Linked DNA regions of Homo sapiens: region 2 is linked to region 1. Evidence: fine-mapped expression QTL. A gene starts in region 1. The other region holds a variant in brackets. All regions are shown on one strand. Distances are from middle to middle. Region 1 holds the start of CMSS1 (cms1 ribosomal small subunit homolog). Region 2 overlaps COL8A1 (collagen type VIII alpha 1 chain).

Evidence for each region. PIP is the estimated chance that this variant, and not a neighbour inherited with it, causes the effect.
Region 2: its variant is fine-mapped to the expression of CMSS1 in nasal epithelium (TOPMed, PIP 0.91).

The regions. Positions count from the first base shown.
Region 1 is chr3:99,814,675-99,823,016 of GRCh38, forward strand. CMSS1 (cms1 ribosomal small subunit homolog) reads left to right here and starts at 3,188. Exons shown (of 10, transcript NM_032359.4): 1 at 3,188-3,369. The coding sequence starts at 3,306. HP09053 (a long non-coding RNA gene) reads right to left here. Exons shown (of 3, transcript NR_110821.1): 2 at 4,246-4,300; 3 at 1,958-3,798. LOC105374010 (a long non-coding RNA gene) reads left to right here and starts at 3,188. Exons shown (of 5, transcript NR_189163.1): 1 at 3,188-3,369. RefSeq lists a silencer at 2,869-3,623 and enhancers at 3,039-3,913, 3,145-3,454.
Region 2 is chr3:99,781,280-99,789,621 of GRCh38, forward strand. All of the region lies in intron 2 of COL8A1 (collagen type VIII alpha 1 chain), which reads left to right. Among named protein-coding and RNA genes, the nearest start is that of CMSS1, 32 kb to the right of the region's middle. The variant C/T (reference allele first, on the strand shown) is at 5,080.

The DNA.
Region 1 (8,342 bases):
CCTGAGAGTGACTGCCTCCTTAAATCTGGTATCCTAGGTCTCTGCTTGCCTCACCCTAGTCCCAGCACAGTATCTCATGGAGTTATGATTAAATGAATTAAGATATAAGAGGCATAGAGAGGTACATACAACATGCTATTGTTGATATTGTTACTACCATTATTGTCTACATGATGCAAAAGTTTGAATGCATTATGATGGTTCCTGAAGTACACTTATAGGCTGGGCTTATTGACTAAGAACCTCTGCACTGATTAAGACCTTTTCATTGTGTGGTGAGCATTCACGAAACAGCCTTCAAACTTTATCGCTCTCTTACTAATTCAGTTTTTGCCAACCTTTCACATCATGGCATCCATAGAAAATGGTAATATCTGTACAACACTAGAGTGAAAAGATGATGATACCCTCAACCTGAGGCAACTGCCCCAAGGTCACTGCTTCCTCCAAAGACTGCAGGGGTCAGTCTTCAGCCCACCCATGCCAGGTGGGAAGCTCTGCTCAAATCCATTATTCATCCTGCACAGTAATACCAATTTAGCTTTCCTAAAACAATACTTCCATCATGTCCTTTGCCTCTAATAACAACGACAAAAATCCAGAATTCTTGGTCTGATACTCAAGATTAAGGCATGGAGTTGGAAGAGACCACAGGAATCATGAAATTGCTCCCCTTTATTTTACAGACTCACAAAGAAATGCCCAGCAAAGTTTAATAACTTATTCAAAGCAACATTGCAATCTTTCTGCCAAGGAACTATCATTTACCCTATCCATTTTTGCCGACAGACATCCATTGTCAAGTGCTACCTCCCAGTTCGCCCCATTGGGAAATGAATGCTTCCTCCTTTAAACTCTAATAATACTCATTCAGATACTGAACAGTAAGAGGGAGCAGAAAAAGACCTAATAGTTATTTCAGCCTGAGCTTCCCTGTGTTAGATGATATGATCAGATACTGGAGAGTACGGTTTTACAATACACTGATTTATAAACCAGGATGCCTATTCACTAATAACCAATTCACTAATAACAGAACAAACAGAACAGAAATGGATGCTACAACTTAGGTTGGCTATTCAATATAATCTGGGGTCAGTAAACTTTTTTCTGTAAAGTTAGAGCAAATATATGAGGGAATAGTAATAAATAGTAAATATATGAGGGCTACAGTCTCTGCTGCATATTTTTCTTTACGTTTTTGTTGTTGTCGTTGTTGTTTTGTTCTGTTTCTTACAATGCTTTAAAAATGTAAAAAATGGCTGGACACAGTGGCTTAGGCCTCTAATACCAACACTTTGGCAGGCTGGAGTGGGAGGACTGCTTGAAGCCAGGTGTTAAAGACCAGCCTGGGCAGCAAAATGAGACGCCATATCTACAAAAAACAAAAACAACAACAAAATAACCAAGAATGGTGGCATGTGCCTGTAGTCCCAGCTACTCGGGAGGCTGAGGCGAGGTGGAATATAATGTAAGACCATTCATAGTTCATGGTACAAAACAGGTATCAATTCCCATTAATGCATAGACACTCCATAATTTAGTATTGCCAGACTTCTTTTTTTTTTTTTTTTTTTTTTTTTTGAGACCGAGTTTCGCTTTTGTCAACCAGGCTGGAGTGTAATGGCACCATCTCGGCTCACCGCAACCTCCACTTCCCGGGTTTAAGCAATTCGCCTACCTCAGACTCTCAAGTAGCTGGAATTACAGGCGCCTGCCACCATGCCCGGCTAATTTTTGTATTTTTAGTAGAGATGGGTTTCGCCATTTTGGCCAGGCTGGTCTGGAATTCTTGACCTCAGGTGATTCACCCACCTCGGCCTCCCAAAGCGTTGGGATTACAGGCTTGAGCCACCGCGCCCGGCCCATACTTCTTAATTTTGTGATTTATTGCCTGAAAAACGGTCTCGCTGTGGTGTTTTTTTTGTATTTCCCAGATTAATAATCAGACTGAATTCTTTTCATGTTTATTAGCCATAGCAACTCCTCTTCCACACTGGCATTTCTTATCTTTTTCAAAAATCTATTAATCACGAAAATCTCGTCATCTACATTTCTTCACAAAAGCCATATTACTTTTGATCTTTATAGATTATTTTACATTTGCCATATTTATACATAATATCTTCCCTTTTGGGGCATTTAGAGTGTGCGGACAAAGTCTAGGCAGTAATGCATTTATAAAACATCTATGAGTTGGGTGCACACGGGGTAATTTTCCACATATGGCTAATCCTAGCCTCATCAGATTAAGTTTCCCTGTCTTGTCATTTCCGAGGATGTATCCTATTAGAAGTCTAGCCCTTTATTCCTACAAATTGAATTTCCACTACTGTAGGCTAACATCTGAATGGACTCATCTTACTATTCCATGCATAGTACCAGGCACGTTGCGTGCTTTTACTACATTTTGTATAATTTTTACGTCTGTGTTTGATGTCCTGAAAAATACCGTCCACAATTACTTCACAGCTAGCCCCAGCACTTGGCGCCCAGCGGGTTTTCCTAGTCCCTCCCTGCCAAATCACGTTGGGACTGAGACAAGAGGCACTGCGGGTCTCTTACCTATAGTTACGAAGCAATGGACTCCCTTATTACTTCGTTTCCCAAATAGGGGGTGGGACACACAACCGAGGGAGTATGAGGAAAACAACTTGCGGGTCTTCGAGCCACTTGCGTCTTTCTGTGGGCGAGCCTTTCCAGGCCAATTACATTTTCTTTACTCATATTGCATAAATAGCAGAACTACATTTACCACAAAGGCCCGACATTCATGGTCATGGATCCTTGCGCATGTTTTCTAAGAGCAAACTGTACAAACACATAAACTCTGAAACACTGACGCACAAGCGAAAACACACGCACATGTTTGGGTCTTCTCCCGCTGCGCAAGTTCTTTGAAACTGAGCGGAGAAAAATCGTCTTCACATGGTGTCTCACACTTTCGACACAATCTTATCGGGAAACGTAACACGTAAACAAAATTTTTTAAAATGCATTATCAAAAACGATGACAATCCCTTTCGTCTTATGTTCCTTTTTGTCTTTAAGCTTTGGGGGGATTTATGTTGCGTTTCCAAACTGCTTCTGCCTGTCGGCGCCTGTGTGGAAACTGCGACGAGTCTGGGAGCGGCTGCCGGAGAGGCGGGGCAGAGGTGTGACGTCATCGCCGCGGGGCGGAGGCGACAGTGTCTAGCGGGAGCTCCGCGTGTAGCTACGCCGGCCGCCTGGCTTTGAGACAACGTGATTCTCCGCAGCTGGTCGCCTACCCGTGATGTTCTGCCCACGTCGAGACCTGAGCTGAAATGGCAGACGATCTCGGAGACGAGTGGTGGGAGAACCAGCCGACTGGAGCAGGCAGCAGCCCAGGTACCCACTCTGTGCCCGCGCTCCTACGGGGCCTCTCCCGGAGCCCTTCCGTGCGCCTCAGCCCTGGTCGCTTCTGGCGATCGCGGTGTTTGCCCAGCAGGGGTGTGCACCGCCTTGGGAGCGCGCAAGCATCTCGGGGAAAATGGTGCAAGAGATTCTTTAACACGTGAAACAGACAGCTGTGACATTAACTCAGATCTGTCTGCCAGCCAGGAAGGATCCTTTCCACAAGCTTTCTCTTTTCCTTATTTCTTGAGAATGGATAAGACAGTTTTTGTGAAGAGAGGCAACTTTGTATGATGGTTAAGGGTGACCCATGAACTGCTTTCAATTCAGACTGAGGTCAGAAGCAGGGGTTGCTGCTTCAGACTCCCTCCATTCAAATCACGACTCCAGTATTCTGATACTGTTTAGCCTCCTTTTCCTCATCTGTAAAATAATGATAACAATAATGTCCATTTCGTAAAGTTGTGAAGATTAAGTGAAGTTAGTACAGTAATGCACTTTAGCATAGTGCTTGACATATAATGTGTGGTAAATATAAGTTACTGTATTTCTTGTGGTCATCATCATTATCATGGAATTTGGAATAGTAGAACTGGAAGGAGGCTTAAATAGAGATCATCCTTTGAACTCACTTATTTTACAGATGAGAAACATAACCTAAAGATGTCAAGTAACTTGACAAGTTCACAAAGCTAGCTCCTTTCAGAAACAATACTAGAATTCAGTTAACACAATTTGAATAGTTTCTACTATGCTCTGCTGTGTTTACCAACTCCTGATGCAGTGGGCATTTCATCCCCAAGTAGAGTAGCGTTAAGTGACCCCCCATGTCAGGCTAGCCTTGAACTTTTTAAGTTCCATCACACCTACCATGCAATTATTGGTTGGTTGGTTTTTATCACTCCTCAAGGTCTGCCTCTTTTCTCTACAAGAGAAGACAGGGCCAAAGTCAGATTCATACTTCTGTCATCCACAGGGCCCTGCACATGTTAGACACTTGATACCTATTTGCTGCAAACAATCTTGAAATACTAGTTGTGAAATATCCATTAAAAATAACCAACTTCATTTGTTGCATTGTTTCCGGAAGGTCAAGCCTTCAGGTACAAACTAAGCAGATGTCATTTTTAGAAAGGTAGCCAATACAACATTTCCTTGATTAAACTTCCTGACTCTTTTGCAGCCCTGTGGTGTTCCACATTTACTTTAATAACTACCCCTCCCAACTCAGGTGTTAAAAAGCTCTATTTTATGATATGATTGAAGATGAACAGAGGCCATTTAAGAAATAGTTGAATTCTGTTTGAGTGGTGAAGGGGATCCCAATTCTTGGTTCTAGTCCTCACTAGCTGTGTGACTTTCAAGTTATTCATCCGTTGGAAGAAAGGCAGTCAACATGTATTGAGTATCTATTATGTGACAAATGTCTTCATAAATATGAATTGATTTAACTTTCATAACATCCCGAAAAGGTAAGTATTCTCTTCATTTGTATAGGTGAAGAAACAGAAAAAAGTTAAGTCGTGTTCTTAGGAACACACATTGAAGAAGAGGTCTGGGAAGAGTTTAGTCAAGTGTGATTGATTTTGAAAGTCACGCTTTTCCCGCTACTACTTTGTGACTTCTCTGGGCCTTTGTATCATAATCTGTAAAGAGCCCTTAAAGATCATCTTTTTTAGGGTTTTACCAACCAACAGTTTTTTTTTTCTTTTTTTTTTTTTTTGACACGGAGTCTCCCTCTGTCGCCCAGGCTGGAGTGCAGTGGCACGATCTCGGCTCACTGCAACCTCTGCCTCCTGGGTTCAAGCGATTCTCCTGCCTCAGCCTCCCAAGTAACTGGGATTACAGGTGCCCGCCACCACACCCAGCTAATTTTTGTATTTTTAGTAGAGACGGGGTTTCACCATGTTGGCCAGGCTGGTCTTGATCTCTTGACCTCGTGATCTGCCCACCTCGGCCTCCCAAAGTGCTGGGATTACAGGCGTGAGCCACCGTGCCTGGCCCCCAACAGTTTTAAACACTGAATCTAGTAAAACTTTAAATCGCTACAGCCTCCTTCATCTAAGTTGCCAGAATTCTCATGAAGACAGTGTGTTGGAGTGCCTAAGATTGCTCTACTTCTTACATTCCTTCTAGCCATAAGACTAACCCTTTTTTTTTTTTTGAGACGAAGTCTCACTCTTGTCCCCCAGTCTGGAGTACAGTGGTGCGATCTCAGTTCACTGCAACCTCCACCTCCTGGGTTCAAGCGATTCTCCTGCCTCAGCCTCCCGAGTAGTTGGGATTACAGGAGCCTGCCACCACCCCCAGCTAATTTTTGTATTTTTAGTAGAGATGGGGTTTCACCATGTTGGCCAGGCTGGTCTTGAGCTCCTGACCTGAAGTGATCTGCTCGCCTTGGCCTCCCAAAGTGCTGGGATTACAGGTGTGAATCACCGCACCCGGCCAAGACTAAGCTTTGAAAATTGCTGGCATTAAATTTATCAGAGGCCTTTGCTTTGTTCGCTGCTCTTAAGCAAAGTAAGTATATGCCTTTATTTGAAATATCCTTGATTATTCACTGGCAATTTGCCTAATTGTAATCTGTACAGCGTTTCTAATTCAAAAGAAATCACAGCTGAACCACAGATTTCCTGATTCTTCTTTTGTTGATGGGATCTAGCCTTGATCCTAGAGCACAAGGCTTACTTACCTGGCTGCCTTCTTGAAGTCTTTACTTAAGTTATTTGATAGGGATGTCAAATGTATTCAATTGTTGTTTCAGCCTAAAGTATGTGAATTATGTTTTGTTTTGAAAGTTGAAGGAGAAATAATATGTTAAATCAGAGAAAGGAAAGATAGTTGTATTGGTGCTTTTATTCCTGTTGTGGATTATGCTACCTGCCTATAAAAATAAACATTTTTGCTATAATCTGTTCCCACTTGACATCCATGGTAGCAAGGCAGTGGAAGATTTCAGTCACTTACAAATACTTGTTGGTTGTACATGGTTTATAACATCTATCTAATGTGCCTATCTGTTTGTTGTCTGTCTAAGGAACTGTACTATTTTTTGGCTGTTATCATGTCTTCTTAGATGTGGTATGTAACAAAGTTTTCATGGCTCTTTAAAACCTGTCATTTTTGTGCTAGAGTTCTACATTGCACTGGAGCTCAACATGGGACCTGGCACTTAATTGGTGTTTGGTGGATGTTGGCAGAATAAATATATGTGTGTATGCGTGTTACCTGCTACAGAGTATGTAGGCAGACATATAATTTCTCATCCAATCTAGACACTTTTGTGAGTGGAAGGCTATGCAATTAGAATTTTGCAGGGACTCTCCTGGTCCTTAAGGGATGTCTAGTCACTCCATTGGTGGCAATTGGAGTCATGGCCCAACATAAGACAGCTGGGAGTTACAGTGCTGAGTGTGCAGCCCAGGATGCCTTAGGCATAAGACCCCAGGAATCATCTAATGGCATCTAATATTTGATTTATTTCCTTATTCCCTGTAAACCTTCAGCAACTGTTTGAAGTGACTTATAGTAAGTAATACATTCAGTAGAATAATGATGTGAAAATATTAATGCTGAAATGAGCAAACACAATGCCTGAGATTTTAATGTAGTTGACCGGTCTGGGTACTTTCTCAGTGTGAAGCTGAAAACTGAGAGAATGTCAATCACAGCATGGATTTCGTGACTTAAGGAAGAGAGCCAAGGGATTCTGCAGTTGAAAATGTCACTTGAGGGCCTGTAATCCCAGCACTTTGGGAGGCCAAGGTGGGCAGATCACCTGAGTCCAGGAGTTTGAGACCAGCCTGGCCAACATGGAGAAAACCTGTCTCTACTAAAAAGACAAAAATTAGCCAGGTGTGGTAGCAGGCACTTGTAGTCCCAGCTACTCAGGAGGCTGAGGCAGGAGTATTGCTTGAACCCAGGAGGTGGAGCTTGCGACGAGCCAAGATCGCACCACTGCACTCCAGCCTGTGCTACAGACTGAGACTCTGTCTCAAAAAAAAGAAAAAAGAAAATGTTACTTGATCATTTACTCACTGAAGATGAAGAGAATACTAATTGCTTTCCCTTTTTATTTCAATGACATACCTATTAAATTACCAAGTCGAGTACCCAGTAGGCAGCTAAGTATGTGAGTCTGGAGCCCCAGGGCCAGATCCAGGCTGAGATACAGATTTAGGAATAACTGGCATACAGATAGGTTATTTTTAAAGAGCATGTTCTTAGCAGTCTGTAACATTGAGCCTCCATGTCTTTTAAGGAGGGTCTTTCATATGCCTCCCCAACTCATTCTGAATCTTTGATGACATCTCTTCCCAAGCACCTAACTAGAAAACTGAAGTGTTAAGACACTGCTATGTACAGTGCCAGGAGACTGCAGGTAATAATACCAGCTTGCGGCCAGGCGCAGTGGCTCACGCCTGTAGTCCCTACACTTTGGGAGGCTGAGGCAGGTGGATCACCTGAGGTCAGGAGTTTGAGAACAGCCTGGCCAATGTGATGAAACCCTGTCTCTACTAAAACTACAAAAAATTAGCTGGGCGTGGTGGCACGCACCTGTAATCCCAGCTACTCAGGAGACTGAGGCAGGAGAATTGCTTGAACCCAGGAGGCGGGGGTTGCAGTGAGCCGAGGTCGTGCCACTGCACTCCAGCCTGGGCAATAAGAACAAAACTCCATCTCAAAATAATAATGATAATAATAATAATAGTAATAATACCAGCTTGCATTTGTTGAGCACTTAACTACCTGCCAGATGCTGTTTTGATTGCTTTACATGTTCTAGTTAATTTAATCTTCCCAAGTACACCAGCGGTAGTTACTGTTGTTATCTTTATTTTACTGATGAGGAAGTTGAGACACTGAGAAATTAAGTGATTTACTTAATACTATTTAATTTAATTCACCCAATACTATCTATTTAATTGGTAAATAGGGGAGCTGTGATTCATATGCAGGCAGTCTGA
Region 2 (8,342 bases), 33 kb before region 1:
ACTGAATGGTGTCTTTGTGTGTGGTGGTGGGTGAGGGGGTAGGAGGAACCAATTTTAGAAAACATTGATTAATTATTTTTATTTTCCAAGTGCTATTGATATGATTTAATATTCTCCCCATGTAAGATAGAAACTTAACTTTGGCTTAACTTTTAATATCAAGTCATTCAGGGTTATATGATTCAAAATAACCTTAGCTAAACAAAACTTCAACAATTGGATCCCCAAGAAATGTACTATAAAATTTATATTTTATGTAATACATTATAGTTGTGTGCTCTAAATAAACATTTTTACGATGTCCACTTTAATGGATTACATTAGATGAAATTTCCCCACATCTCTCCCTTGCAAAAGGCCTTAAAACACTTATTTTACATTGTGTTGGCTACACAAACTGTACTAGTGCATGTACTAGCACATGAACAGAAAGCTGTTCATGTAAGTAACAGTGTTCTGCAGTCCTTCTAGAGCCATACTAAGAAGGAACTCACCTTGCTGTGTATCGCCAGGTCCACGGAATGGCAAGGACCTTATTCTTGCAGAGCCCTACCAATGCCCTACTTTACTGTAGAGCTGCCTCTGGATTTTAGATCTTCCATTTTTCTTACAAAATTGTTGTTGTTCCTAAAACATGACTATGTCACACTCATTAACCACGAATTTCCCCTTTCCAATGTGCATACTTTGTACTTGTCATTCTTATGACTGGAAACCTACATCAATATTTGCTGAATGACTGCAGGAATTTTTGAGCACACACATTGTATGAAGTTTTTATCTTTTATAGCCACTTTTTAAAGGTTTCTCAGTAAGCTTCACATTTGTATTCAACCTTTGAATGTGGTAAGAAAAAAAAACCATGGATTATTATCATTATTGTCCCTAAACCACGTTTCTTATTTCTTCCTTTGGTTTCTGGACAAGTATAGCTTATTTGACCAGAGGAATATTTAAGGGGGGTAGGGGGTGTACAAACTCTCCATCATTATTCCATCGCCAACTGTAAGAAGGGAGAGTGCAATATTGAAAAGTAACTGCAAGTATGAGATTGATCTAACTTTCTGACATACAAAGGCTTGAGTACCTAAGTTCCTAAAATTATTATTATTATTTATTTATTTATGTTTGAGATGGAGTCTCGCTCTGTTGCCCAGGATGGAGTGCAGTGGCATCATCTCAGCTCACTGCAACCTCCACCTCCTGGGTTCAAGCAATTCTCCTGCCTCAGCCTCCCGAATAGCTGGGATTACAGGCATGTGCCACCATGCCCGGCTAATTTTTGTATTTTTAGTAGAGACAGGGTTTTGCCATGTTGGCCTGGCTGGTCTCGAACACCTGACCTCAGGTGATCCGCCCGCCTCAGCCTCTCAAAGTGCTAGGATTACCAGCGTGAGCCACCGCACCCGGCCCCTGACATTATTTATTTATAAGTGTGGATATGTTCTTCACATTCACAATTACAAAAAACTTTAGAAGTAGAAGGGACCTCAAAGTCATATAGCTAATGTTCTCATTCTGCAAATGAGGGAACTAATGCCTAGTCAGAATAGGTGACTTACTTGGGTCCGAACTAAAACTTAGGTATTTTCTGCTCTGAAAGCAATGATGCTTTCATATTAAGGAAAGAAAAAATATATATTCTACTTTAGAATTTCTTTTTAGGGGTTTTCCCAAGTGTTTTATAAACTGTTTAGCAGCTGACACTATTCCAGTTAGAGAAACAAAAAAAAAATTAATTGCAAACTTCAAATACGTGAGCTATTATTTTAAGAAAAATATTCTCCAGATGTTTCCCAACTCCTTTGAGAGTGGAAAAAAGGCAATGAACTTACAGTTCGGCAGAAGAGATTCGGATTAGATATTAGGAAATCTAATGTGAAATCCTACAATTGGTTACTAGGGAATGTTGTAAAATCTCCTCTGGAGAACCTTTGGAATGTGGTGGTTGGCCACTCATTTCAGAGGCATTATGTGTGTGGTTCATTTCTAGCGCTGGGGGCACAACCTAATTGACTTCTCAAGTTTCGTTGGTCCCATGAGGTCATTATCTGCCTATAGCTAGTACATGGGGATGATTGGCTGCTCTTAATTACAGAATTCAGAATTTGTTAGTGAAGCATATAATTTAGGCTGTTTTACATTTATAGCCATCCCAGTAGATGTAAATGAGCAGATTGACCAAAACCAGTAAATGTTCATTGGATGGTCTTGCCCACTGCCTCCATGTGATTGATTGACCAGAATCTGACAGGCTTATTTATTTGGGCTATTAGTCCATTTTCACACTGCTATAAAGAACTACCTGAGACTGGGTAATTTATAAAGAAAGGAGGTTTAATTGACTCACAGTTCCACATGGCTGGGGAGGCCTCAAGAAACTTATAATCATGATGGAAGGAGAAGGAGAAGCAAGAACTTTCTTCACAAGGTAGCAGGAGAGAGAGAGCACGTGCGCGCAAGGTGCGGGGTTTGGGGGGATCTGCCAAACACTTTTAAACCATCAGATCTCATGAGAACTCACTATCATGAGAATAGCACAGGGTAATCCACTCCCATGATCCAATCACCTCTCTCTAGGTCCCTCCCTTGACATATGGGGATTACAATTTGAGATGAGATTTCGGTGGGGCCACAGAGCCAAACTATATCAGGCTCCATCTCAGCATATTTACCTTGCCAGTGGCTTTGTGACTTAATGAATACTTTAAGCTTGTATTCCTAGTCAGAAAACCAAAGAGTAAGAAAGCCTGTCTAAGAGCTTGTCTTATGTAAGAGAAGAATTCCTTATTTCATGCAAAAGGAGGGCCTTGATATTTGGAAGACAAGATGGAGAAAACTGACTGTACAGTTAGATGGATCTGTACCTTGTAAAACAAAGCTGGAACTTTGTTAGCTAATATATTGGATGGCAGCTCCTACACATAATTAAATAACAATTTTCAATTTTTGACTAGGAATGTAACAGGAATAACTGTATACAGTCTTGAATTTCAGTAAAATAATCAATCATATAAATATAGGATGGGGATATTATCAATTAGAAACTGTAATGTCAAAAAAGACCTAAGAAATGGATATGGGATTAATGATATAAAGTATTTGAAGTATAGTTATGTGTCATTTAACAACAGGAATATGTTCTGAGAGATGCACCATTAACTGATTTTGTCATTGTACAAACATCATGGAGTGTACTTACACAAACCTAGATGGTACCACTTGCTACACACCTTGGCTACATGGCATAGCCTATTAATCCTAAGCTACAAACTTATACAGCATGTTACTGTACTGAGTGCTGTAGGCAACTGTAACACAATGGTAAGTATTTGTGTATCTAAATATATCTAAACATAGAAAAGATAATGCATTGCACCACAGTCATTATGATGGCTAAGACCTCACTAGGTGACAGGAATTTTTCAGCTCCATTATATTCTCATGGGACCACTAGTATAAATATGGTCCTTTGCTGACTGAAGCATCATTATGCACCTCATGACTACATAGTACCTGGGACTTTTTTCCAGTAAATAAAAAACAATGTTGAGATAATGCTGAGTTACTTACCTGAGGGTCATAGATCAATATAGTTAGAGTCATTAATATCTCTTAATACTAATCAATTTTGCAACAAAGGTACATATCCTTGATCAGATGACCCTAAGGTGGGCTTATTTAAAATGATCTTAGCACAACAATAAAAGGTCATGTGCCCATCTTTTATGTTATGACCAAGTTTTGGGATTCATTTTCTCAACATGCCCTCCCTTCCTCCACCACTAATAGTAAACTGCATGTGCACCTCCATATGTGAATCAAGAAAGGTAAGTCTCTCTAAAAGTTGTTTAGATAATTTAAAAAGCAACAAAATTGTACAAAATACTGAGCTGCTTTTTAAATGTTCCCATCATTATTAATATCCAAGTCAAAAATATGAGGGCTTTCTGTCAACAACCTCTGTAGGTAGAATTTTCAATGGGGAGTGAAGCTGAATTAGGTATTTTTGAAAGCCCCTATCAACACACTAAGACTTTTGATGATGAGGATCCATCAGTAAATATTGAGAAGTCAAATTATTCTTGTCCTCAGAAAGCTTACAATCATGTTTAGTCTAATGGACAAAAAACAACAAGAAAAAAACATAAGCTTGGTTACAATTACATTTGACTTTGTATTAAACTTTAGGAGAATAACAATGATGGAGAAGGTGGGGAAGGCTTCACAGAGGAGGCAGGAATAGAACTGGTCTGGAGGAAAGAAGGTGTTATGGGCTGAGTTGCATCCCCCAGAATGCATATGTTGAACCTCAAGTACCTCAGAATTTAAGCATATTTGAAAATAGGGCCTTTAAAGAGGAAATTAAGTTAAAATGAGGTCACTAGGGTGACCAGTGTGGCTGGTAAATAAGAAGAGGCAATTAGGACACAGACACATGGAAGAAAGACTGTGTGAAGACGCAGGGAGGTGACTGCCATCTACAAGCCAAGGCGAGAGGCTCCAGCAGAATCCAACTCTGCCAATATCTTGATCTTGAACTTCAATGTCTCTAGAACTGTGAGAAAATTAATTTCTATTGAGCCACCCAGTCTGAGATACTTTGTTATGACAACCAGAGAAAACTATATGGTAGGACTGAAATCTACAGAGAAATAAAAGGAAAATAATTATCTTCCAGGAAAAAAGAATATCGTAAATAAAGAATTCAAAATGAGGTCAGGCATGGATGAAGAACATACTTTTGAAATGAGTCTATATTAGTGAAAGGTACCTTCAACTAACATTGTAGTAAACAGGACTCTTTCCTTTTTTCCCCATACGTTGTCTTAAGAAAGATACATCTCTCAACCTTCACATCTCTATCCAAAATTTACTTCCTCAGATGTCATTCCCTACCGTTCTTTCCAAAACATCGGAGCTCTTCCACTCTGTCATTATTGAACCCTTTATCCTGCTGCTATACATTGAATGTTTATGTCCCCAAATTCATATGTTAAAATATGACACCCCCCTCCGAAAGTGATGGTATTAGGAGGTGGGGCCTATGGGAGATAATTAGATCATGAGTGCAAAGTC[C/T]TCATGAACAGAATTAGTGCTCATATAAAAGAGACTCCAGAGAGCTCCCTTGCCCCTTTTATCATGTAAGGATACAGCAAAATGGTGTCATCTATGAACCAGAAAGTGGGTCTTCACTAGACAACCAATCTGCTGGCACCTTGATCTTGAACTTCCCAGCCTCATGAACACTGAGAAATTGCTGTTCTTTATAAACCACTCAACCTATGGTATTTTGCTACAGCAGCCCTAATGACTAAGACACCTGCATTGCTTTTTCAAAGCACTCAAATCTCAAATTATAAAATGTATTTTTAACATTTATCACCTGTCTCTCCACACTAGACTGTGAGTTCAATAAGATAATACCTCCACTCTCTAATTCACCACTGTATCTCCAATACTCAGAACATTTCCTGTTCTGAGTGTTCAATAGGTGTTCAATAGGTATATCTAATGAATGAATTGCCCTGAGAAATGCAATCAAGAGAGAATTTTCTTTGAGAGGCATGGAAAAACCAGGAAGGCAATTCTGGTGAACACTGGAAGAGGATTCTGCCTGACTTTCCCTTGCTTTAGGGTGGCAAATCTGAGGGTCTTGAGAGACTACAAATCTTGTACAAGTAGGAGGCACAGAGGACCAGCCCAGGAACTGATTAGAGAGGCTTATACACACCACACACAACAGAGACACACATACATACACAAAGACATGCTGTGTTAGCCTATGTGAAAGGGAAAGTTGGATTCAAGGCAAGGACCAACAGATTAAATATTTAAACATTCTTCTGTATAGTAAGCCAATGAGGATAAACGTACAAATAGAATGCTGATGAGCATTTAAAATATCTATCACATTATTCTGTTAATATATGTATCACATTACTCTGTTATGTACATTACAGGTCATATGAGGAATCTGAAATTCTCTGCAGCCCTGCTCAAATATAGGAAGCCATTTAGGGCTGTTCAAAGTATCTAGGATTGGTTATTCTTGACACATGAATGAATGACTGCCTTGGTTCAGCTGTTCTTTTTCTAAATCATTTTTAACAAGTGCATTTTAATGGCCATTACTGTTTTATTCATGTTAGGTTATCATTATTGCAGTTAACCTCACATTTACTTTGCTAGTATCTTTCTTTGAAAATCTTTGACATTTTAGTTGGTTTTGATTTGTCTTTCTGGTCACACTCCATTAATAATAACTTAAATCTGAATAGTCCTTTTTGGCTTATGAAGAATTCATATTATCATTTGTACCCCTGAACAGCTCTGAGGGATGGGCAGAGATTATAATTGCTATTTTACAGGTAAGAAAACTGAGGCTTAGTGAAGATAAAGGACTTGTCCAAGGTCATAGGCATGAAGAATGGCAGAGCCAAAACTTAAATAAAAGTCTTTTGACTTCTTTGACAGTGCTTTTGTCATATGACATGACACCCATCACTAAGCCAGCCTGGCTGGCAAAGATTCAATGTTCACACACATTAGATATGCTTATGTTCAAGAACACAAATACACACACACACACACACCCACACCCACACACACACACACCAGCTGTCAAACAAATAGAAATCAAAGAAAATATTAAGGAGAACTCACAATATTATTGTGTCCCACATTCTCAGAAAGAGAGGCATGAAAACCCACTATCACAATTTCTTCCCAGCAAAAATTCCAAGGCTCCTTCTTTCTTGCCAGGTGTTTGTATAAAGTTACCCAAATTTGATGTTCTTTTGAGTGATTTGGGAGAACCCCCATACCACTTTGACCACCAAAAATATCCTCAGGGACAGGAGAAAAATTAGTAGGAATAAGTAAAGCAGTAAATTCTAACCAGGGCCCTTATATAAATATTCACGTTAAAACTGAACAAAGTTTATTTAGATAAAGAGCCAGAGAAATGGCAGAAGGCAGACCTAAAGAGCTGGTTTACAGGACAGATATGCTGAGCCTATGAGAGGAAATAATTCAACTGGTATTCTTCCAGGCATTTCATCTCCTTCCAGTTTTCCAGTATTTCATTAGATTGTCCTGGTTTAAAGATTATGAAGTATAATCCAACATATCCACTGAATTGATGGAAGGCTGAAGGGCCAAACATGCTAGCTTATTATTAAAGACTTCACCACAAGTCTGGGGTTCCATAATTAAATTCATTCATCCCCAAAAGTAGAATTAAGTACCAGCTTATACATTACCAGATATTACCACACATTTCTGGTATGGATTAACACTTTCAGATCTCTAGTAACTGTCTTACAGACATTGAATGTTAGAGCTAGAAAAGACTTAAGGGAACATCCAAGTCATATTTTAATAAATGAAGAACTTAAAGAAATTTGTTTAGATGCACATAACTAGACAAGGAATAAGTACTGATCTTTGAGTGAAAAAAGCAAAAAATAGAAGTGTGTATAGTATACTGCAATTTATGTTTGAAAGGGATGTATATGATATGTGCATATCCACAGACTATCTGAAAAATATGAGGAAAAATTGTTGCTTCAAACATAAGGGATTTTAGATACTGGAGAACAGAAGTAGGAGGAAAATTTACTTTTTACTAGATATCCTTTGCTACTCAATAACAGTTTACACATCTGTCACCCCCACTAAGAGTACAAACTCCTTGATGGTAAGGCCCACCAGCCATATTATATTCATCTTAGTAATCCAAAATGGGCCTAGCAACTGTTTCTTCATTTTTTCCAGGGAAAAAATGATTTGTTAGTGTATTTAGAAAGATTGTAAAGCTTGAATTTTGTGATAGGGATTCATTTTAAATATTTTATTAGGTGTTTTATTAACCAATCCTTTTGTAGCCTGTATACACTCTTGGCATTACCCTGGAATAGGATATTGCAAAATCAACGCACATTTTCTAAGAAGTAGAAAACTATGATCCAGAATTAAGTAAGGCAAAAGCAAAGAAAACAACTCTCAAGAAGATGGAAATTGAATTATTTACAGACAGAAGTTTCTTCAAAGTTTTCCAGAAGATACTTACATTAAAAATTGTGAGAAATTTGCCACTTCTCTCTCTCTCTCTCCAGCATTATGATGACATGTCCCTTAAGATTCAAATTTTCATTAAGTCCCTTTATACATTGTGAGCATGGAGTTCGTGTATGCCCAGCATTAGAACTACAGAGGGCAGGGAGTGGGCAGGCAGAATATTGAACAGACCTAAGTGTGTATCACACTTGCCCTCTAGTGTGCATTTGCCAACAATGCACTTCTCTGGGCTGTCTGGTTTTAAGCCTAGGGCGTTTCCA